Linked DNA regions of Homo sapiens. The protein of the gene in region 6 interacts with the protein of the main gene of each other region in a pairwise test. Each region holds a gene or a part of one and is shown on either strand. Other genes may lie near its edges. The genes, in order: CDA, CUTC, ZCCHC10, NT5C2, ZSCAN23, SDCBP and HPRT1.

Region 1 (3,500 bases), on a different chromosome or scaffold from region 6:
CACCTTCTCAGAGACGCTTTCTCCGATCACCTATCTAAAATGGCTTCCTCCCACTACTGCCTCCAACTCTCTGTATCCATTTCTCCTGCTTTAATTTTCTTCATAGCACTTAACAGTCTCCTGAAATAAATGTCTTTATTATCTAATTCCTCCTATTATATTACAAACTTTCTGAGGGCAGAGATTTTGTCTCTAACATGTGTTGTGGTATGTCCTGGGCCTGGAACAGTGAAGTCATGGGGCTCTCAGTTTCTCTTATGGATTGAATGTTTGTGTCTCCCTAAAATTCTTCTGTTGAAGTCCTAACCCTCAACGCTATACTATTAGGAGGTGGGGCATTTGTGAGATAACCAGGTTTAGATTAGGTCGTGAGGGGGCAGCCCCCATGATGGGATTAGTGCTATTATAAGAAGAAGAAGAGACTCTTAAACTCTCTCTCTCCATCCTGTCAGGGCATAGTGAGAAAATGGCCAAGTCAGAAAGAGGGCCCTCGCCAAGAACTGAATCTTGGACTTCCCAGCCTCCAGAACTGTGAGAAATAAATGTCTGCTGTTTAAACCACTAGTCTATGGTATTTTGTTATAGCAGCCTGTTTTAGTCCGTTTTGTGCTGCTGTAACGTAATATCCCAGACTAGGTAATTTATAAAGGACAGAAATTTATTTGTCATAATTCTGAAGGCTTGGAAGTCCAAGGTCAAGCTGTTGGCAAGTTGGTGTCTAGTGAGGACCCAGTCTCAGCTTCCAAGATGGCGCCTTGAACATTGCATCCTCTGGAGGGGAGGAACACTATTCCTCATGTGGCAGGAGAGTGAAAGAGAGAGAATCCATACTGTAAGCCCTTTTTATAGCGGTATTCATCCACTCACCGGGCAGAGCCCTCATGACCTAAACACCTCTTATTAGGTCCCACCTCCCAACACTGTTGCATTGGCAATTAAACATAGCGAGACCCTGTCTCTAAAAGTGTATATAAATAATAAATTTGAAAAGAGAAGCCCTCCAAAGTACGCTTATGCATTTTGGAGGGGGCAAACCTTCAAACCACAGCATGGCCTGAGCTAAGATGGCTAACCATTATTGAAAGAGTGGAATTTTCCACTTCAGTTCTAGATGCTTAAGACGCAGAGGAATAACTGTATTTGGAGCCTGTAACAAATTCAAGTAATTTCCTTGAATTTTCTAGCTCAAAAAAAAAAAAAAAGGCAAATAAAAAAAAAGGAAGGAAGCCTTTGCCCACGTACTGCATCCTGAAATGCTGTGCAATTTTGTTTTGCTTCTCTCAGCCCAGAAAGCAGGCTGTCTTCTGACCAGGCAAACCAATTCTGTTTCTGCTATTGCCTTTGCTTACTTCAAAACATACATGAGAGAGATTGGGATGGTGCTAAGTTAGAAATCCATAATAATAAGATAGGACCAAATAATACTACGATCATAGTGCCAGTATTACTAATTGCTTTCTTTTACTGGGCACTCATAGGCCAGGCACTCTGTGGAGTGCTTTACCTGCATAAGGTCAGTTAATCCTTTTAACTGTTGGGTAAGGTAAATACTGTTAGAACACCATTTTACAGAAGGTAAAAGTGAAGGCTGGTGGCAGGAGGCCAAAACATGCATCCTGGCCTGTGAGATACGATGGACTCTTCTTTTTTCTTTTTGAGACGGAGTCTCGCTCTGTCGCCCAGCCTGGAGTGCAGTGTCACGATCCTGGCTCACTGCAAGCTCCGCCTCCCAGGTTCACGCCATTCTCCTGCCTCAGCCTCCCAAGTAGCTGTGATTGCATACCACACCCGGCTAATTTTTTTTGTATTTTTATTAGAGATGGGGTTTCACCATGTTAGCCAGGATGGTCTTGATCTTCTGACCTCATGATCCACCTGCCTTGGCCTCCCAAAGTGCTGGGATTACAGATGTGAGCCACGGCGCCCGGCCAGACTCTTCTTATTCTCTATGGCCTTGCAGGAAGGAAGGCCATGTTTTGAGGTGGTTTGGTGCTTAAGGCAGGGCTGCGGTCAGATGTTATTAAGACATCAGCAAGACTGAGTGTGGTGGCTCACGCCTGTAATCCCAGTACTTTTAGAGGCTGAGGTGGGTGCATTGTTTGAGTCCAGGAGTTCGAGACTAGCCTGGGCAACATGTCAAAACCCAGTCTCTACAAAAAATTTTAAAAATTAGCTAGGCATGGTGGTGCATGCCTGTGATCTCAGCTACTTGGGAGGCTAAGGTGGGAGGATCGCCTGAGCCAGGAAGGTCGAGGCTGCAGTGAGCTGAGATTGTGCCAGTGAACTCCAGACTGGGCAACAGAGTGAGATCCTGTCTCAAAAAAAAAAAAAAAAAAAAAAGACATCAACAGGGAAAGAAGCTCACAATGAGGCTATTTGGGCCCAGCCACCCAGAGAAAAGAATAATGCCAGAAAGCACTGCACCCACTCTCTTTTCTGAGGGATCCTAGCAAGATTAAAGCAGTATTCTCACACTCAAGCAAGTGGGCATCAGAATGTTTTGGAGGGCTTCTCTTTTTAAATTTATTTATTTTTATATTTTTTAGAGACAGGGTCTTGTTATTAGTTGCCCAGCTGGAATTTGAACTCCTGGACTCAAGCAATCCTCCTGCCTTTGCCTCCTGAGTAGAGGGCTTCTTAAAACACACTTGTAAGCCTCTTTCCTGGAGTTTCTGATTCAATAGGTCTGGGCTGGGTTGGAGCTCAAAAATTTCAAATTTTCACAAGTTCCCAGGAGCTGCTGAGGCTGCAGTTCTGGGACCACGTTTGAGAATCACGTGAGGAATGTTCTGTCCATATACTTGAAGAAATACGACACTCTCTCCATGTTCCTAACCTCCTCCCACTGCAAATGCACCATTTCAGGTATGAATTATATTCGAACTCAGCTATTTAGTCGAGGGACTGTAGTAAAGCTTGCCTATGTAATGAGACAATTTTTTTTTTCGAGATGGAGTTTCACTCTTGTTACCCAGGCTGGAGTGCAATGGTGCGATCTCAGCTCACTGCAACCTCCGCCTCCCAGGTTCAAGCGATTCTCCTGCCTCAGCCTCCTGAGCAGCTGGGATTACAGGCGCCTGCCACCACGCCTGGCTAATTTTTGTATTTTTAATAGAGACGAGGTTTCACCATATTGGCCAGGCTGGTCTTGAACTCCTGACCTCAGGTGATCCACCCACCTCAGCCTCCCAAAGTGCTGAGTGAGATTACAGGTATGAGCCACCGTGCCTGGCCTTTTTTTTTTTTTTTTTTTTGAGAGAGTCTTGCTCTGTTGCCCGGGCTGGGCTGGAGTGCAGTGGCGTGCTCACGGCTCATTGCAATCTCCACCACCGGGGCTCAGGCCATCCTTCTGCCTCAGCCTCCCGAGTAGCTGGGACTCTAGGCATGTGCCACCACGCCTGGCTAATTTCTGTATTTTTTGTAGAGATGGGGTTTCACCCTGTTGCCTAGGCTGGTCACAAAATGAGCCACTTTTGAGTGACAGTGGAGAGGACTAACTG
Region 2 (3,500 bases), on a different chromosome or scaffold from region 6:
AGGCATGCGCCACCACGCCCAGCTAATTTTTGTATTTTTAGTACAGACGGGGTTTCACCATGTTGGCCAGGATGGTCTCAATCTCCTAACCTTGTGATCCACCCACCTCGGTCTCCCAAAGTGGTAGGATTATAGGGGTAAGCCACTGTGCCCAGCCCCATCCTACTTTCTAAGAGATTTCTCCCCTCCTCAGAGCCCTCAAAGAGTAAAGTGGTATCAGGAAACTGAAAACAGAAAATCTACTTCTGCTTTGGTTCTCATACTGCTACATGACATTGAAGCTCTAGCCTGCAGTGGATTAGGTGGTAGTGGTCCTCTGGGACAGGCCCCTTCATTTCACCCTTTAGTGTATGTAGGCAACTAAATCTACCACAGAGGATTTCCCTATTTTGGTGGCAGCACCTTCTCACCACTAAAACTATATTATGATATCTCATTAAATACATTAGTGAGAAAAATGTGGAACCCAAAAATTCTACAAATTTTGAAAATATGAAAATATTTTTGTTAAACCTATTGGAATAAAGAACAGAACAGAAATTTGAAGTAAAAAAATTTTTTTTGACTGTAGACTTCTTTTCATGTGCAATGGCAGTGCTCTCTGAAGGCAAAATAGATACTTGTTCTTCCATTTTACCAAGGTGTAGCCTAAGAGTATAGAAATTATAACTACCTGATTTTTTGGCCAGGGGTGGTGGCTCACGCCTGTAATCCCAGCACTTTGGGAGACCAAGGCGGGTGGATCACGAGGTCAGGAGTTAAAGACCAGCCTGGCCAAGATGGTGAAACCCTGTTTCTACTAAAAATCCAAAAATTAGCTGGGCATGGTGGCAGGCGCCTGTAATCCCAGCTACTCGGGAGGCTGAGGCAGAGAACTGCTTGAACCCGGGAGGCAGAGGTTGTAGTGAGCCGGATCGTGCGACTGCACTCCAGCCTAGGCGACAGAGCGAGACTCCGTCTCAAACAAACAAACAAAAAAAATTATATCTACCTGATTTTTTACAGGAAATATTTCTTTACAAGAAAGTATCACATTAAAAAATCACTGTGGTGCAGACAAGCTATAATGAAAAATAATTTTGTATACTATTGTGGACATCTGTTCATTGACTAGATAGTCAACACTAGATTGCATCTGTTTCTCCTTTCTCCCTTCCTAATAAGACCCAATTCTTCTCCAGATACCCAACTTTCTCTCCCCTTAAGAAGTCTCTATCTGTGAAACCCCACCTCACTGCTAGCCCCAGGGATGGTTTTGCCTGGCTTAAGATAGACAGTACCTTTCATTTCACCAGCCACAACAATTTATTCTTTTGGGGTTGCACATGACCTAATACAGTCTCAGTTAAAATGAGTCTCAGGATTCTTGCTTGGAATGCTATGATAGGTACACACACTTGAAGGCAATACTTGCTCTCTCCCTCGCTCTCTTATATCCCACCACCACCTACACCCACTTTTAACAACTTTTCATAACTAAGGCTTCAAATTTTCTAGAAATTGCACATCTCTACTTTTATAACTTTTAGTCCTAGGATCTAAAAAACCAATTGGTAACCTTGGAACACTACAGAATTGTGTTCCATAAAAAGGTGGTGGCAGTTGTTGAAATTAGAAAACTAACACTGTTCAATAGAACTTTTAAAATGAAAATGACTCACCTCGGTGGAAAGTGACTGGCAGAGGGCGGCAAATAGCTATAAAAAGAAAGTCATATAACAACATGAATGAAGATGTCATCACTGATTACTATATATAGAATTCTCCATGTTAGCTGAAACTTTTTAATACTTTCTTCGCCTAACAAGACAGTAAACTGACATAATAATAAAATGGCAGCCTTACAAATTCAAAAGTCTTATCTTTCCACAAATCTCTGATTTTTATACAAAAAAATGGTCGTGGCTTATCACCAAATGAAAACCATTTAATCTGACAACTATAAGGGCAGCATTACATCTAATACTTGTCCCTCTGAGGTCATTCAATAAGTACTTTGGTTTAGTAACATAGGTAGTTTGCTTCTGTCCTCTTTGCATCTTCCAACTTGGTGGTCCATCCTCACCAACTATAATACTTTTGAAGTTCTTGGTGCAGTGGTTAAAGGAACCATGGTAAATTTCCCTTAAATTTCTATTCTATGGGAACAGTAGCGGAGCCTAATCTATAGCAATTGAGGAGAGTTAAGAAGGCTTTGCCACACATACACCCCACCCCAAACATCTAAATAACTACTATTTGAAATACTTAGGTTAGTATAAGTGTCTGTAGCTATGACCGCAAAGTCAGTTTTGTGATGTTGTTTTTCTATATTGTGAGCATAAATACAATTATCATTAGAGGCTTTTACGTCTTAGATACAAATTCTTACCCATAAGGGACATACACAGCTCTTTGTCAATGTGTCCATCTTCAGTCAATGCCCCAAAAACCAAACCATCAGCACCATAAAGCTTGGCAAGACGAATGTCAGCCTTCATCACCTCAATTTCACGATCTGAATACAAAAAATCACCTCCCCGTGGCCGAATCATCACAAAAACTGGGATCTGAACACTCTGCTTCACTACTTGAAGGACACCTACAAGAAAAGAAAGCAGATTAAAATTCAAATGTGAGCTAAAAGCCAATGATATATTATTGGTCATTTACCAGACAAAGATGGCTCTAAAAGGTAGGACAGACACTGAGAAGAAAAATGTATATATGGTAGAAGGTAAGTAATAGCAAAGGGTTAAATAGAACGATTTAGAAAACAGAAGATGCTACAATTTAAAAGCACTTGTCAGTTGACTCAACAAAAATCCTTATGACTCAGAACCCTTTTATTGGTAGGTGACATTTGAAAGTGCAATAACTACCAGGCTCGATGTTCTGCCAGTACATTATTCCCCAAGATCCAATTTCTTCTTTCTAATTCATTACAGCTCTATTTAAAACCTACTGGAGAGATGGTTAAATAGCTTCAAAGTTCATATTCCTTTAATGGGCAAAGACATTTAGCAAAACCTTTTTTTTTTTTTTTTAAACAAGATACGTGAAAGGGAGCAAAGTTCTACTTATTTGTGATTTTATGCAGAGATCTATGCATAAAAGTACCTAAATATGCCATAATAAGTGGCTAGCTCATAAACCATCAATAGTATAAGGCTGTGACAGGCCCCATCAGTTGTTTACCCAGTATGAATTTCTTTCTTTTTTCTTGCTAAAAGAACTCCAATTTTGCATAGGATAGCAGTTGTCCAATACTAAGCAATGAATCATAATTGGTGTTACAAAAACAGACTGTACTCAAATTTACAGACATGCTCTAGGGATTTTAGAATGGCCAGGAATGCCCTCTTTTCATGTGAAGATTCCAAAGGGCTGTTGTGTATACAAACTTTTTACATTAAATAATGCTATTATCAACCTCAGAGTAGCATAACTTAGGAGACCACAATTCATACACAGACTTCTGCTTTTGGCCAAGACAGGGTAACAGTGACTGGATTTACCCT
Region 3 (3,033 bases), on a different chromosome or scaffold from region 6:
TAGAAGTTAGTCTCCACTTTGCCATTGATTCTGTTTTTTGTTTTTTCTCACTCTGTCACCCAGGCTGTAGTGCAGTGGCACACTCATGGCTCAGTGCAGCCTCAACCTCCTGGGCTCAATCTATTCTCTTGCCACAGCCTCCTGAGTAGCTGGGACTATAGGGGCACATCACCATGCCCAGCTAATTTTTTAATTTTTTGTAGAGACAGAGTCTTACTATGTTGTCTAGGCTGGTCTCATATTCCTGGACTCAAGTGATTCTCCCGTCTTGGCTTCCCAAAATGTTGGGATTACAGGCATGAGCCACTGTGACCAGCCTGATTCTGTCATTTTGAATGAAATGTGTGACTAGAAGAACTGAGTTCCTGCTCTCTGTACCTCTGCAGTCATACTTTTAACAGCCATAATAGTAAAACTTTAAAATTGGAATTTGTTCAAATGTCTTTACACCTCAAATGGAATAACTGACATTAAATAAAACACTAAAGAGATAACAGAAGTTTAAGCTTGTGAGCACAAATTGTGAGTTTTATTTAACTGCAAGTGATGCAACCTATGTAACACATTCTTTTCTCATCCGTGTTCTTTAACTGCTAATATTACCTTTACAGAGACAAACATTATAAAATGTGCCTGATTGGTAATTTATTAACTCTATCTGTCAAGTGATAATATTCTGTAGGCAGCCTTTGAAATGATGTTTTGAGAATTTATTTACAACCATTGAACACAGATGGTTTTGTAAAACTGACAATTACAGGCTCCTTAAACTCACAACATACATATATTTCAATATTTAAATAGCCTGTTTTCTTCAAAAGTAATTTTCTACTGCTTTTTCATAAAAATATAAAAAAGACAACATTTATAGTTTTAAAAACCTATATTTAACCCAAATCAAATTTTTTCTACAAATGATACCTCTTTCCAAAAAGTTAAAAAGACATCACAGAATACTGTGATGTTAAACCAAAGACTCATCACAATAACAGCATTTTACTTTTAAGAAATATTGTGCAGTATCTCCTTTTTAACCTTTCATGCTAGATTTCAACTATGTATATCCTATGTAAACACACCAGATTAATCCTAGTCATTCATATATATGCAGTAGACTGTCATATATGACCAGTTACCATACAAACTATAATACCATATTTTCAAAAATAGCAAAAAGCAATCTTTATGAAAGCTTAAAAAAAGCTTTTAATAAAAGGCGACCAACATTGCCCTAATTTTCAGTAAAAATTACCTCTTCTTCCTACCTTTCCCCCTGCTTTGAATGGTACCTTTTATTGCATGTTAATACACAAAGATATTTCTAGCACTTCTATTTAAGTTAGCCTCTTACATGGCTGCTTTCTTTTCTGATACACTGACTTTTAACAGAAGGCACCAAGATTAGACTCCTAAGAAGTTTCAATTTTTTTGTCCCTTTTTAGGTTCCTCTAGAATAATTTTCCTCAGAAAAGGATAACTTGAAAAACTTAAGGAACCAGAAGAAAATGAATGACGTAACACAGCAATTTGAAACTTACAGCATTCAAAAACTATAAATATATTAATAGGCTCCTTGAACATACCACTTAGGACAAAAAGTCAGATAACTTTCTGAACATAAATGTAAAAATAGAGCACATTTATTAATAGTAGGAAAACTCCTAAGCTTACAGTAACAACATATTAAATCTTACATAACATACAGCCAAAAGCATTAGAAATCCACTGCCAGATATCCTGACGCACCATCCTGAAAATATGTCTGATACATACCACTAACATATATAACAAAGTATGGCATTTATTTCACAGAGAGAAAAGATAGTTTCATCACACAAACAGATTTGCAGATTTCAGCTTTAAGTTCTAGAGATATATTTTAAAGATAAAAAAAACAAGATTCACCCTTCAAATAAAAGTCTCTCTCTATAAGCCATTATTAATATTCTCTATGCTCTTACAATGTAAAACATTTAGAAACTTTTGAATTCTAGAAATGTTCACCAGTTAACCTACTTGGCCTTAACATATTCTAAATTCCCTTTCAAGAATCACATCAATGTTTTCAGTCCATCAGTCCAATATGAATGGAGCAACTCTATTTCTTTTTCTTCTTCTTTGGTGGTTCATCGTCAGAGCTGCTATCTGTGCTGGTGCTACTGCTACTGGAAGAGCTGGAATCTGAGTCTGAATCAGAGGAGGAGGAAGAGGTTGTGGAGGAGGCTGAGGATGAGGAACTAGAGGAGCTTTCATCAGTGTCACTGTCCTCTGAGGAGGAAGAGGTAGATGTTTCTTCACTCTCTGATGAAGAATCACTGGCAGAACTGTCACTGCTACTGCTACTGGAACTGGTTACACTCTTAGACCTATTAGACAATACAGAGTTATATACATGGGAAGGTGACATGTAATAGAATGTTAAAAGCAATTTCATTTTTTTTTTCTTTTCGAGACAGAGTCTTGCTCTGTTGCCCAGTGTGGAGTGCAGTGGCACAATCTCAGCTCACTGCAACCTCTGCCTCCCAGGTTCAAGAAATTCTCTTGCCTCAGCCTTCCAAGTAGCCAGGATTACAGGTGCGCACACCGACGCCCAGATGATTTTTGTATTTTTAGTAGAGACGGGGTTTCATCATGTTCACCATGTTGGCCAGGCTGGTCTCGAACTCCTGACCTCATGATCTGCCCGCCTCAGCCTCCCAAAGTGCTAGGATTACAGGCGTGAGCCACCGCGCCCAGCCAAAAGCGATTTCATATGATTCCATATATATGCTTATATATTGAAGCTTTGCTAGCATGTTATCCTTAGGTTTGATATTTTGGAGATTGCCTGTTGTAAACCACAGTCCCTCTCTTTACAAGGCATTGTTACTTCAGCAACTTAATTCTCTTGGATGGAATTCAAGATAAGCATATCTACTATATTACATTTCAGAGGGAATAATGTCAGAATAAAGCTGCAGTATAACAATTGGGTCTATTTAAACCTCACGTAGCTTAGCTGGTGACTGTTTCATCATCTTTATTTTAACTACT
Region 4 (3,500 bases), on a different chromosome or scaffold from region 6:
CGTGTTTCTCTAATACACTTAACATGATAGAAGCTTGGCAGTTTCCATTTCTGGATTTGATAGGGAATATTTAAGATTAAGAAAATGATGTTTGAGATGCTATCATATATATCCCACATACAGCATCTAATGGAGAAAAATATAAGCCTTCTCAGTTGTCCAAGAAAAAAGACTATGTTTTAGAATGGTACCAGCTGTGTAGTAAGAAGAATGTTTTTTATACCTTGTTTGATTAAGCACTTATTCCTTACAGAAAACAATTATGATTTTCTGTCTGGACGGAGTCAATATTTTTTAGTTGCTTTAGAATTAGTTTTTAAGATTTTACTCACTTTAGCTATATTAGGACATACTTTGAGTTGGTACAAAGCTTGAATTAAATGAGGTTGGTTCATGATGATTAAATACTACTACATAAAATTATTGCCTGTATTACTTTGCATTATCAATAATGTCTTCATTTTCACATAGGGGACTTGTCTTTGACACACTGTATGGAAATCTTTTGAAAGTCGATGCCTATGGAAACCTCTTGGTCTGTGCACATGGATTTAACTTTATAAGGGGGTGAGTACAGAGAACCTTTAGCCTCTTTCTAATGTTAAAGTCAAACAATGTGAAGATGACATCATCTCCCCAGATGTAATATATTTCCCTATTACTTTTCATCATTAAAGAGCAAATTCCCTTACATAAGGTTAGTTAACAGTTATTTATTAGGCAGTTGGAACCCAAACTGACATATAGTTAGCAATTACATTTTGTTTAAATTAAGTGCCTTCCAATTATACAGCATACAACAAAACTAATCTTAAAACTTGCCCAGAAGAACTTTAGTAGTTTTGACTTATTTGAAATTCTAAGATTTTTATTTTCTTCTTTCTAATACAGTTCTCAGGTAGCTGTTCAGAAGAGGTATGTATATAAAAATGCTTTGAAAAAATTTTAAACTATAGCAATTTAAATGATTAAGAGATTTTTAATAGCCAATACGTTTTTTAGATTCTAATGAATCTAAACTTTGAATCCTGACATTTGATTGTGTCATTAAAAAAATGTAAACATAAGGTTAAAGTGAATATGTGCTAATAATATTTTAAACAAATAAGAATAAGCTTTATTTTCAAAATAAAAATATTTCCACTATTGTCACTAATTTGAACTTTTTACCCTAGTAAACAGCAGATGAAATTTAGTATCTACTATTTTTTTGTGAAATGTCCCGATATTTTCAAATCATAATGCCACAATTTGACAACTTCTGTAGCTATAGCTTTACTGTTATACATTTTCTCTACTGTTATGCCACCTTATTTACTATTGACATTGTATTAAGGTCAGAACAACAGCTCGTAAAACCAGAATAGGATGTGTGTCAGTCTCTTATGTAACTTTTCCATTTACTATTCATTCTTGATGGCAGAATAGGAAAAACACCAGGCTACATTGAAATGTTTAAAAAGACAATGTCTTTTTTTGTGATAAGAGGCACAAACCAACTGTAATTGTACCAGAGCTTCCTTTAGATTTGAGGTCACAGGATGCCCCTTAGAATTGAAGCATCTAAGACTCTTTAGTTGGCATTACTGACATTACACAGGCTCAGAGATTTCCATGTATACATGAGAACGGTGTGAAGTAAACACCCATCTTGACACATCTGAGCAGGCCAGTGATTACATCCACATTTCTTTCACTGTTTCTTTCATGAGGGGGTTTGTTCAGGATCCATGAAAATATCAGGAAACAGGATTTAGAATATGAAGTAATTACAGGTTGTACTAGTAACTTAAGCTATTTTATACACAGATATTGTCATCATAACTCAGAATCTCAATGAAGATGAACCAGGGTTCTATTATGTCTAAAAAGGAATTTTTGTATTATAAGGGAGGGGTAGGCAGAGAAGAAAAGAGAAGCAGTTGGATAAGTTAGTACTACGATCAAATTTCCAACTCAAGATCCACAGACTTCCTCTCTTCCCTTAAATAAGCCAATAAAGTTTCCACATAGCTCCTTTGCTAATGCATTTAATAGTGTTTCAAAAATAAGTCATTTATGAGTAAATGCAGAATCATTCAAATAGCACTTAGCACTGTGCAGTCTTTAGAGTTAAACAGAAAAGCTGGCCAGGCACAGTGGCTTACGCCTATAATCTCAGCACTTTGGGAGGACAAGGCAAGAAGACTTCTTGAGCCTAGGAGACCAGCCTGGACAATAAAGTGAAACCCTATCTCTACAAATATCAAAAATTAGCTGGGCATGGTGGTACATGCCTTTGGTCCCAGCTATATGGGAGACTGAGGCAGGAGGAGTGCTTGAGCCCAGGAGGTTGAGGCTGCAGTGAGCTGTGTTGGTGCCACTGTAGTACAGCCTGTGTAACAGAGCAAGACCCTATCTCAAAAAAATAAAAATAAATTAATAAAATTAAAATTCCCATGAAAAGAAGAGACTGAAGATAGAGGGAAAGAAAGTTATCGAAGCTATTACAGTGGTAGACAAGGCTGGAAAAGAAGGACTCCATCAGGCTTTGCTAATGAGTTAGGACCTTATTTTTTGATAAATTTTTATTCTGTGGGTCACAGAAAGTTAGTAGTAATCTGTGCTGTAACTGTTTTCTTCCCATTCCAAGTGTAGCATTTCTTTTATGATATATTACCTCCCCCAAATTGATTTTTATTTTAAATATATACTAGTGTGATTTGACACTGAAGTTTACAATGTAATTGCTAACTATATTTATAAATCAATTTGGGTTCTAACTGCCTAATAAATGTTAACCATCTTTATGTAAAGGAATTTTTCTTTAATGATGGAGGGAATAGGGAAGTATATTGTATCTAAGGAGACAGTGTCAGCTTATTAAATCTAACTGAAGAAAGTATATTTTTACTGTTACCTTCCACCTTACTTTTATTAAAGAAAATCTTGGAAAGCTAGAAGATAAGATACTCTACAAAGTTATTCATTATTGGGAACTCTCATCTCAGAAGAGTGACTTAAGACAGGGAGCTAATGTGATTTTTATATGTCTAACTAGAGTTTATGCCATTTGTAGTTAACAAACCCAGGCAGGAATTAATCCAGGTCACTCTGAGTGTGAGCTTTAAATTTGATTTCCTTTATTTACATTGTTAATCTCCATGTATTCACTGTCAGAACTGTGCATTTTTATATTTTAGTATTTTTCCCTTTGAGTTTCTCTGAAATGTTTTCTTCTAGAAGTGTTTTTGCATCTTTAACAAATTCTGCTTCACTGGCTTTTTTCTTTTAAACCTTGAATTTTCTTCATGGTTCTGTTCTGTCTCTTCTCTTCCTTCTCTGCACACTAAGTGGTTTCATCTCCTCTAATACTTTTCATGATTCCATCTAGTATCTGTACGTAGATGATCTCAGTTATCTCTCAAGGCTGAATCTCTTTTAAGTTCTTGACCTTTGTTTCTAATTGCCTAATAAAAATCAGTTTACTTCAAACTTAGTATCACTAAAATAGAACTACT
Region 5 (3,500 bases), on a different chromosome or scaffold from region 6:
ATTCAGCAGATCATGTTTCAAGCCATGATGATCTCTTCCCTGGATGATTATCATAGCATCCCTCTCTGCCTCCACTTAACCCCAAGGTCATTGACACAGCGGCTAGAGTTATGCTTTTGTGTTAAATGGAAGTAAAATTTTGTTACCCCTTGGCTCAAAAATCCCCAGTGGTTTCCATATCTCATAGAATACAAGTTAGAGCCCTTACCACTGCCTTTCATGATCAGTTCCCAAGCTCCCTGCTTTATCTCCTGTTACTTTCCCTTTTGTTTTCTTTGTTCCAGCCATTGTTCAACTAGCTATTACCTGAAGAATCCAGGTGTGTTCCCACCTGCAAAAATTTGCACTTGGCAGTTACCTTTGCATGGAACAGTCTTTCTCCAGATAGCCATGTGACTTGCTCCTCACTTCCTTCAGGTCTGTTCAACCATTACCTTATCAAGGCCTTCCCTGACTCTATAAAATAGCAACCTTTCTTTCCCCTTACTCTCTCTCTCCTTACCTTTATTTTCTCTATAGCATTTATCACTACTTCACAAATACTTAATTATTATCTGTTTCCTCTGACCCGTTTTCCTCATCCTGGCCCCTCTTTTCCCCAACAGAAGTTAGTGTTGTAGCAGTGGAGACTGTAAATTCTGATGTCAGATTTGTTGGGTTTGAATTGCAGCTTCACTGCTTACTATCTGTAACTGACTTGAACTTTGGACTAGTAACTTAAACTTTTCATATCTCAGTTTTCTCATCTGTGATATGGGGGTAATAATAGCACCTTATTCATGGTTGTTTTGAGGATTAAATGGGTTAATATATATAAAGCATCTGTAACAATACCTGGCACGTTAAAAGCACTATAAATGTCCGCTATTATTAATACTGTTATTAGGATGTAAATTCCATGAGACTAGGGACTTCGTTATAATTGCAGCTGTATCCCCAGTGCCTAGAACAGTACATGGAATATGGTAGGCTCTGAATATATATTTGCTGGTAGGCTCTGAATAAATATCTGCCAAGTGAATGAATGGTGTATGAAAAGTTATGACAGAAAAAGATAGTATGGTAGTCACAGTGGTGGTGAGTCGCACCAAGAAAAGTGGAGGAAGGCTGGGCGTGGTGGCTCACACCTGTAATCCCAGCAGTTTGGGAGGCTGAGGCAGGCAGATCACGAGGTCAGGAGTTCGAAACCAGCCTGGCCAACATGGTGAAACCCTGTCTCTACCAAAAAAATACAAAAATTAGCTAGGCATGGTAGCGGGTGCCTGTAATCCCAGCTACTCAGGAGGCTGAGGGGAGAATCATTTGAACCTGGGAAGCAGTGAGCTGAGATCGTGCTGTTGCACTCCAGCCTGGGCGACAGGGTGAGATTCCGTCTCAAAAAAAAAAAAAGTGGGGGAAAACATGAATTTGCAGATTCTGTCTTTAGAGGAAAAAAATCCTCTGTACATTTCCTGGGGTAGTGATTACAGAAGGTAACCAAACCAAAGATGTCAGAACTTTATGGAGAGGATTATGTGTGCAGGTTATCCGGAAGGATGCTGTCCCATGCCAGTAGTTTGTTTCCCCTTTGATAAATATAACCAATAATCACAATATGAATCTAATTTTTCTTCGGGTTGTAATGTGATCAGTGTTCACTTGTAATTTAAATACCTGATATGGTTTGGCTGTGTCCCCATCCAAATCTCATCTTGAATTATAGTTCCCAATTTCTCATAATCCCCATGTGTCGTGGGAGGGACCCGGTAGGAGACAATTTAATTATGGGGGCAGGTACCTTCATGCTATTCTGGTGACAGTGCGTTCTCATGAGATCTGACGGTTTTATAAGGGGCTTTTCCCCCTTTTGCTCGGCACTTCTCCTGCTGCTGCATGTGAAGAAGGACATGTTTGCTTCCCCTTCCACCATGATTGTAAGTTTCCTGAGGCCTCCCCAGCCATGCTGAACTGTGGGTCAATTAAACCTCTTTCCTTTATAAATTACCCAGTCTTGGGTATGTCTTTAGTAGCAGCTTGAGAACAGACTAATAAAATACCCTATTCTTAGTTATTTAATTTCACAATGCATGTCAACACCTTAAGAATAGTGTAGGGTTGCTGGGCGCGGTGGCTAATGCCTGTAATCCCAGCACATTGGGAGGCCAAGGCGGGTGGATCATCTGCGGTCAGGAGTTCGAGACCAGCCTGGCCAACATGGTACAACCCTGTCTCTACTAAAAATACAAAAATTAGCCTGGCATGGTAGTGGGTGCCTGTAATACCAGCTACTCAGGAGGCTGAGGCAGGAGAATTGCTTGAACCCAGGAGGCGGAGGTTGCAGTGAGCTGAGATTGTGCCACTGTACTCCAGCCTGGGCAACAGAGCAAGACTCCTTCTCAAAAAAACAAAAACAAAAACAAAAAACAACAAACAGAATAGAGTAGGGTTATTTTTGCAATGGATTACAACAATTTTACTTAAAACAAAAATATTTTATTCTACAGGTTATTATTCATTTGTGGGTCATAAAATCTATGTGGTGTGTCACAACCCACCACATAGATTTTATAACCCACAAAATCTGTTCCCAGGCTTTTTTGTTTTGTCTTTTAATGAAATAGGTTTAAAAATAATTGTATGTCACTATATAGAGCAAGGATACATAGTGTTTTGTGAAATTATTATTTTAGGTATTTGTGTATCTCATAAATGCACAAACATATATACATATGCATGTGTGTTCTGGGTTATAATATAAAATATTTCTTAATAAGAGTCCTGGTCAAAAAAGTTTGAAAGTCTCTACTCGAAGATGGTGCTTAGAAATCACTGGGTCATATAATTGTTTTTCTTTCAGAAAATTTTCTTCATTAATTACTATCCTGGTAAAGATTGCTCATAAGTTTGTTTGTTTTTGTTTTTGTTTTTTTGAGACAGAGTCTTGCTCTGTCGCCCAGGCTAGAGTGCAGTAGTGTGATCTCAGTCCACTGCAACCTCTGCCTCCCGGGTTCAAGCGATTCTCCAGCCTCAGCCTCCTGAGTAGCTGGGATAACAGGCGTGTGCCACCAAGCCCAGCTAATTTTTGTATTTTTTAGCAGAGACGGGGTTTCATCATGTTGGCCAGGCTATTCTCGAACTCCTGACCTCAGGAGTCATAGACATTTGTCTTTTTATTAGCAGTAATTTTATTTTACATAAAATTGCCTACTCTCCACCTTCAAGTAGCTTCAAAGAGAAAAAGTTTCAAAGAAATTAAAGGGCAAGAGAAAGGTCAAATTCTACTCCTGTTTTAAAGTACTGGAACCAATATTTCCGTCATTTTAGTATCTCTGAGCCTAGACCACTGCAGTCAACTACTTTCTGATTCTTTTGCCTTAGCCTTAAACCACTAGGATATTCATTTAATCATACAATAACATAAGAAAAATAAGTGTTACCACTTTGGAGTTTACTAAGTAGCCAACTTCTTTGTGCTCATTATCCTCGTTTTATCTTTGTATCAACCTAGAAAGATAGGCAGT
Region 6 (3,500 bases):
AACTGTGCAAATTATAATTTCGTTTGTCAGTGACTGGAATGACAAGCACCTCATTCCTTCCTGTGTGCCTCCTGCTCCTGTCAGTACTGTGTAAGCCTGGCCCTTTACACTGGCAGCAGCAGTTGGTTCCAGTCTGCAACTTTTACTGACACTCCCAGAACCAGCCTCATTACAACCCCTCAGAGGCACTAGTAGTGTCCCCTCATCCAAGGTCTGAGTCCCAGCTCCGTGGGGCTCTTCCTCAAGCTTCTAGGTTCTGCTAACTCCAATCTCTCTCCTGTGTTATCCCAGTCCTAGGAGAAGCAGCTAGCTATCTGCAATTACATCTATGTCCATTTATGTTTTTTTCAATTTTTCAACCTCTTAAAATACCTACTATTATTTGTTTTCCCAACTGCATCACCACTAACACAAGCAAGTTTTCAATAAATATTTGGTAAATACATAAATGCCAGGTACTGTATATGCATTGGGATATGGCAACAAGACAGACACAGATTTAACTACAATTATAATAAGTGGTACAAAGTGCTATGGTCATAGCAATAACCTTAATAAAAGGTTATCAGACCCATTATAATTAAGCTAGACTCTGGAGTCTAATTACATGGAGCTTTGAATTTCAAAAAGAATGTTAAAAGATTAAGAGCAAAGGCCAGGCACAGTGGCTCATGCCTGTAATCCCAGCACTCTGGGAGGTCGAGGCAGGTGGATCACCTGAGGTCAGGTGTTCGAGACCAGCGTGGCCAACATGGTGAAACCCGGTCTCTACTAAAAATACAAAAAATTAGCCAGGCATGGTGGCGCGCGCTTGTAGTCTCAGCTACTTGGGAGGCTGAGGCAGGAGAATTGCTTGAACCCAAGAGGCGGAGGTTGCAGTGGGCCGAGATCACGCCATTGCACTCCAGCCTGGGTGACAAAGTGAGACTATGCCTCAAAAAAAAAAAAAAAAAAAAAAAAGATTATGAGCAACAAAGATATGATAGACCTATATGTGTATTTCAGAATGATTAACTTAGCAGCGGCTTAGTACTGTCTGAAATAAGTTACTAGAGGAAATTTAAGAGAGTACTATAATAATGAAGGCTAGAAGTATAGAAACCCTGAATATGGTTATAGTAGGACTAGAATGGATAAAAAACAGATAAAATGAATACAAGAAACAGAAACAGAATCAATAGGACTTAGTAACTGACTAAATGCAGAAGACAAAGGAGAACGAACTAGTAAAAGGTATCTGAATCTAAGTCCTAATAAACTCAAAACAGTGTAGCACAAAATGAAGTAGACTATATAAGAAATGATATCCAAAAGGAAGTCTAAAATTTCTGAGAAGTGAGGTTCAATGCTAGTAGTATATCTGTGAGTTAGCCACAAAGAGGAAAGCTTATACTAACATGTAAAGTATGATTTTATATAAATCAAAATTAATTACACTATACATACCCCCTGAAGTGGTGCACCAGAAACCACGGCCACATTTGCACGTATTTCTTCTTCATTTAAACTCAGCCCCATGTATTGAGAGAGCTCTGGATACAGTCTGGGATAGAGATCTAAAAAGTAAATGAATAAATTAAAAAGCACTTACAGAATACACAAAATGAAAACTTCTCTCATTATGGGCTTCTGCGTATTAACAAAATTACACTTAAGTTATAAAATCTAGAATGAATTTAAAGTAGCAATTTGGAAAGGCATCTCCCCATCTCTGTAATAATGAGAAATGGAAAATACAGAAAATGTTTAAAATTCGTAAAATATGAAGACATCTGAACTGAAACAACCAGAGATTCCTAAACACTCAAAAGTAGAAATAACTTTTCCAAATAAACTATCTTGCCTTTCCTGTTTCTTAAAATAAACTTACTTGATTAGGAATTTAGTAAGAATGCCACTGATTCTCCAATTCAGAACAACTGACCAAAATATCTATTTGTCAAGTCAGCTACTTTATAACTCATTCTGTAAACAGGGATATGGAATGATTCTTATGAACAATTTTTTTTGGAAGCTTGTAAATTTATTTAGTGTCTTATCATTTTAATAATTTTAACCACATTCCAATGAAATCCTGGAAATGGTATTTTTAAATATTAACATTATTTCACTTATTAGTAGTTATATACTATTTCCAAAAGCTCTTTTTTACATGAGACTTAAATTATCTGTGACTTAAAATGAATTTTCTATGAGGCACAATGTTATAAACTGTTGTAAGACAAAATGACAGGCCACAAAAACTTATTTAACACTTATTTTGTATCTTAAGTCATAGTATTTAGGAGCTCTGTCCTGAATCCCTCTGAACCTTGAAGAAAAAGGGACCAAAGACAGGATACAGAGAATGAATAAAGGCCTTAAGATTTAGGAGGCTTCCCAAAGAGGAGGTGGTTGGAAATTTCAGAAGCTCCCATAGGAAAGACAGAAGACAATTCAGAAAGTTCAACAGCAGCAGCATGATAGTTCTTAAATGTGAATTCATATAGTTCTCATATGTGAATTCATATATATAATTCATTCATAAATGAATCAGCCACGTTAGGGATTTACAAGTCAGTCTAAAATTAATTTTCATTAAGCCATGAAATACATCCCCATATCCACAGTTCACTATCTTAATTAGAAAAAGGGTTATTTTTTGAAGTAAACTTTTTTTTCTTATTCATAACTATTTGAGCTTAACTACCAATTTTATGCAGCCTGTCCAAAAAAAAATCTTGGATTCCTTATATGAGCAAAAGAAGATAACAATATTTCTGTTCACAGAGAATGAACTCAAAGTATAAACCTACTTCCATCGTGAGGGATAGGAGCAGAAGCTTCTGACAAAATTGCTGGATTGGCAGGGTTTGCAGAAAAAGCAGTTTGAGCCTGAAAAAGAAAAGAAGAAAATTCTAACAATATGCTATACTTACTTTATATTCTTATATAATTTATAAGCTAAATCCAGTACTTCCAAAAAGAAACTAAAACAATGAAGATTTATGTAAGAAAGTTTAATTTCAAACACATCAGCAATACATTTTCCAAAGGAAATCTGCAAATCAAAACTATATTTGATATTCTAAATACTTTTAAGGCTATCACAAAAAAATTGTAGAAGTACCATTCTACATGTCTTATAACCAGCACTTCATAGTGCTGCCACAATAAATTAATATTTTCAAAGTGCATTCTAAAATGAATAAATTTTACATTTTCATTATTCTTTTACTAATTAGTCCAAGTAAAAATATTTTATTTGCATAAGAAAAAACCTTACCCATATTCATATAAAAGTCACATATCAGAAAAACACCTAAAAAATTAATACTAAGCATGTCCCACTGAAATCATCTTTATCTTCATTGCAGCAAGTATAGGAAGGGGTTTATGCTAAATACTTTTAAAATATCAGAAATTATGAAAATAGCACAGTTTATCACTGACATAAATCGATGATGACAAGGTAATGTAATTTGTAACTGTTAAACAAACTTGCCAAAATCACTCTGACA
Region 7 (3,500 bases), on a different chromosome or scaffold from region 6:
AGGCAGAAGTCAATATTGATTTGTTTTTAAAGAAACATGTACTACTTTCATAAGCAGAAAAAATTTCTATTCTTGGGGGAAAAGATTATGCCAGATCCTCTAGGATTAAATGCTGATGCATCTGCTAAACCTTCACATATCAGAACATATTTACTATAGAAAGAATGAAAATGGGACATTTGTGTGTCACCTATGTGAACATTCCAAAAATATTTTACAACAACTAAGTATTTTATAAATTTTATGAACTGAAATTTAGTTCAAGTTCTAGGAAAATACAAACCTTGCTAGATATTATAAAAATGATACAATATATATTCATTTCAGGCTCATCAGAATATATCTGTTATCACTTGACAAGAATGAAAATGCACCATTTTGTAGTGCTTTAAAATCAGGAAGATCCAGAGTACTAAAAATGACTTCTTCCTTGAAGCTTACTCACCAACTTCCTCCCAGTTACTCACTGCTTCTGCCACAAGCATAAACTAGGACCCAGCCAGAACTCCTTGAAATATACACTTGCAACGATTACTGCATCTATCAAAATGGTTCAGTGCCTGGCTACAGGTTCTGCAGATCGACTAAGAATTTGAAAAGTCTTGTTTATTTCAAAGGAAGCCCATGTGAATTCTGCCCAGAGTTCATCCCAGATATGCAGTCTAAGAATACAGACAGATCAGCAGAGATGTATTCTAAAACAGGAATTCTGGCAATATAACAAATTGATTTCCAATCAAAACAGATTTACATACCATACTTATGTCAAGAAGTTGTTTTGTTTTATTGCATCCTAGATTTTATTTTTTTGATTTATGGTTTACTTTAAGCATAAAAAATTTGTCAATACAACTCTTCCCAAAAGGCATAAACAAAAATTCATAAAACTTGCATCACTTGAGATACTTCAGGTATGAATTCACAACTTTGTTACAACTTACTATATATATGCACACATATATATATATTTGGGTATATTGGGGGGGTTCTAATTTAAGAAATGCATAATTGGCTATAGACAGACAGTTGTCAGAACTTGGCAATGGGTACGTGCAGGTTCATTATACCAAGTCTACTTGTAGTTGTTCAAAATGTATCATAATACAAGGCCGGGCGAGGTGGCTCACGCCTGTAATCCCAGCATTTTGGGAGGCTAAGGCAGGAGGATTGCTTGAGGTCAGGAGTTTGTGACCAGCCTGGGCAACAGAGCAAGACCCTGTCTCCAAAAAGAAAAAAAATAATTTTTTACAAAATAAAAACAAAATGTATCATCAGACGAAATTAAATAAGAGGCAATTCATTTAAATGACAACTTTTCCCAGCTTGACATTTAACAAAAAGTCTAAGTCCTCTTAATTCATATTTAATGATCAAATATCAAATACTAATTTTTTTTTTTTTTTTTTTTTTGAGACGGAGTCTCGCTCTGTCGCCCAGGCTGGAGTGCAGTGGCGCGATCCTGGCTCACTGCAAGCTCCGCCTCCCGGGTTCACGCCATTCTCCTGCCTCAGCCTCCCGAGTAGCTGGGATTACAGACATGCGCCACCACGCCCGGCTAATTTTGTATTTTTAGTAGAGATGGGGTTTCTCCATGTTGGTCAGGCTGGTCTTGAATTTCCCACCTCAGGTGATCTGCCTGCCTCAGCCTCACAAAGCAGTAGCTGGGACTACAGGCACCCACCACCACACTTGGTTAATTCTTTTGTATTTTTTTTGTAAAGACGGGATTTCACCATGTTAGCCAGGATGGTCTCGATCTCCTGATCTCATGATCCGCCCGCCTCAGCCTCCCAAAGTGCTGGGATTACAGGCGTGAGCCACCCCGCCCGGCCATCAAATACTAATTCTTAAATGGTAAGGACCCACTATTCAGAACCTGTATCCTTATCACTAATATGCAAATATTTATTGAATACTTACTATGTCATGCATACTAGAGAGAGTTAGATAAATTTGATACAGCTACCCTCACAGAACTTACAGTGTAATAGATGGCATGACATGTACATGAGTAACTGTGAACAGTGTTAAATTGCTATTTAAAAAAAAAGACGGCTGGGCGCTGTGGCTCATGCCTGTAATCCCAGCACTTTGGGAGGCCAAGGCAAGTTGATCGCTCGAGGTCAAGAGTTCGAGACCAGCCTGGCCAACGTGGTAAAACCCCGTCTCTACTAAAAATACAAAAAAAAAATTAGCCAGGCATGGTGGCACAGGCCTGTAATCCCAGCTACTAGGGAGGCTGAGACATGGAGAACTGCTTGAATCCAGGAGGCAGAGGTTACAGTGAGCCGAGATCATACCACTACACTCCAGCCTGAGTGACAGAGCGAGACTCCGTCTAAAAAAAAAAAAAAAAAAAAAGATACAGGTTAAGTGTTATGGTAGTTGAAGAGAGAACTCAAACTCTGTCTCAGAAGCCTCACTTGCATGTGGACCACTGATATGAAATAATATAAATAGGTATAATTCAATAAATAGGAACTTCAGTTTTAATCATCCCAAACACCAAAACTTCCTATCAAACAGGTCCAATAAACTCAATCTCTATAAGAGCTAGACAGAAATCTACTTGGTGGCCTATAATCTTATTAGCCCTTACTTGTCCCATCTGATATTAATTAACCCCATCTAATATGGATTAGTTAACAATCCAGTGGCTGCTTTGACAGGAACAGTTGGAGAGAGTTGGGGATTGCAACATATTCAATTATACAAAAATGCATTCAGCATCTACCTTGATTAAGGCAGTGTGCAACAGAATTTGCAGGAGAGTAAAAGAATGATTATAAATTTACAACCCTTAAAGAGCTTATAGCTGGGCGTGGTGGCTCATGCCTGTAAATCCCAGCACTTTGGGAGGCTGAGGCGGGTGGATCACCTGAGGCCAGAAGTTCAAGACCAGCCTAGCCAACATGGCGAAACCCTGTCTCTACAAAAAATACAAAAATTAGCCGGGTGTGGTGGCACGTGCCTGTAGTCCCAGTTACTTGGGAGGCCGAGGCAGGAGAATCGCTTGAACCTAGGAGGTGGAGGCTGCAGTGAGCCGAGATTGTGCCACTGCACTCCACTTCAGCCTGGGCGACAAGAGCAAGACTCCGTCACAAAAAAAAAAAAAAAAAAAAAGCTTAAAATCTAGTGGGAAAGGCATATATACATACAACTAACTGTATAGCATAATAAAGCTCATAATCTGTAACAAAATCTAATTCGACAAGCCCAGAAACTTGTGATTTACCAAAAACAGTTATATATACACAAAAAGTAAACCTAGAACCCAAAGTTACCCAGCACCAATGATTCTCTCCCTAAGCAGTATCAAGTTTAAAGCAGTGATTACATTCTACTGCCTAGATTGTAAACTGAGTAAAGGAGACCAGCACCTTTCTGCTACTGAACTAGCACAGCCGTGTAAACCAACAAGGCAATGGCAGTGCCCAACTTTCTGTATGAATATAAGTTACATCTGTTTTATTATTTGTGACTTGGTGTTGCATGTGGTT

The links.
Region 1: the proteins of SDCBP (region 6) and CDA interact in binary tests that used the Homo sapiens proteins (3 or more experiments, as listed by UniProt).
Region 2: the proteins of SDCBP (region 6) and CUTC interact in binary tests that used the Homo sapiens proteins (3 or more experiments, as listed by UniProt).
Region 3: the proteins of SDCBP (region 6) and ZCCHC10 interact in binary tests that used the Homo sapiens proteins (3 or more experiments, as listed by UniProt).
Region 4: the proteins of SDCBP (region 6) and NT5C2 interact in binary tests that used the Homo sapiens proteins (3 or more experiments, as listed by UniProt).
Region 5: the proteins of SDCBP (region 6) and ZSCAN23 interact in binary tests that used the Homo sapiens proteins (3 or more experiments, as listed by UniProt).
Region 7: the proteins of SDCBP (region 6) and HPRT1 interact in binary tests that used the Homo sapiens proteins (3 or more experiments, as listed by UniProt).

What each region holds. Positions count from the first base shown.
Region 1 is NC_000001.11:20,595,597-20,599,096, reverse strand, and holds part of CDA (cytidine deaminase), read right to left. Parts: intron 1-3,500. UniProt on the Homo sapiens protein: This enzyme scavenges exogenous and endogenous cytidine and 2'-deoxycytidine for UMP synthesis.
Region 2 is NC_000010.11:99,742,234-99,745,733, reverse strand, and holds part of CUTC (copper homeostasis protein cutC homolog), read right to left. Parts: intron 2,582-3,500; coding exon 2,372-2,581; intron 1,698-2,371; coding exon 1,662-1,697; intron 1-1,661. UniProt on the Homo sapiens protein: May play a role in copper homeostasis. Can bind one Cu(1+) per subunit.
Region 3 is NC_000005.10:132,996,485-132,999,517, forward strand, and holds the end of ZCCHC10 (zinc finger CCHC domain-containing protein 10), read right to left. Parts: intron 2,367-3,033; coding exon 2,099-2,366; 3' UTR 501-2,098; downstream 1-500.
Region 4 is NC_000010.11:103,102,773-103,106,272, reverse strand, and holds part of NT5C2 (cytosolic purine 5'-nucleotidase), read left to right. Parts: intron 1-471; coding exon 472-567; intron 568-891; coding exon of another isoform or gene 892-915; intron 916-3,500. UniProt on the Homo sapiens protein: Broad specificity cytosolic 5'-nucleotidase that catalyzes the dephosphorylation of 6-hydroxypurine nucleoside 5'-monophosphates.
Region 5 is NC_000006.12:28,436,992-28,440,491, reverse strand, and holds part of ZSCAN23 (zinc finger and SCAN domain-containing protein 23), read left to right. Parts: exon of another isoform or gene 1-417; intron 418-3,500. UniProt on the Homo sapiens protein: May be involved in transcriptional regulation.
Region 6 is NC_000008.11:58,570,261-58,573,760, reverse strand, and holds part of SDCBP (syntenin-1), read right to left. Parts: intron 2,875-3,500; coding exon 2,796-2,874; intron 1,557-2,795; coding exon 1,447-1,556; intron 1-1,446. UniProt on the Homo sapiens protein: Multifunctional adapter protein involved in diverse array of functions including trafficking of transmembrane proteins, neuro and immunomodulation, exosome biogenesis, and tumorigenesis.
Region 7 is NC_000023.11:134,466,665-134,470,164, reverse strand, and holds part of HPRT1 (hypoxanthine-guanine phosphoribosyltransferase), read right to left. Parts: intron 1-3,500. UniProt on the Homo sapiens protein: Converts guanine to guanosine monophosphate, and hypoxanthine to inosine monophosphate. Transfers the 5-phosphoribosyl group from 5-phosphoribosylpyrophosphate onto the purine.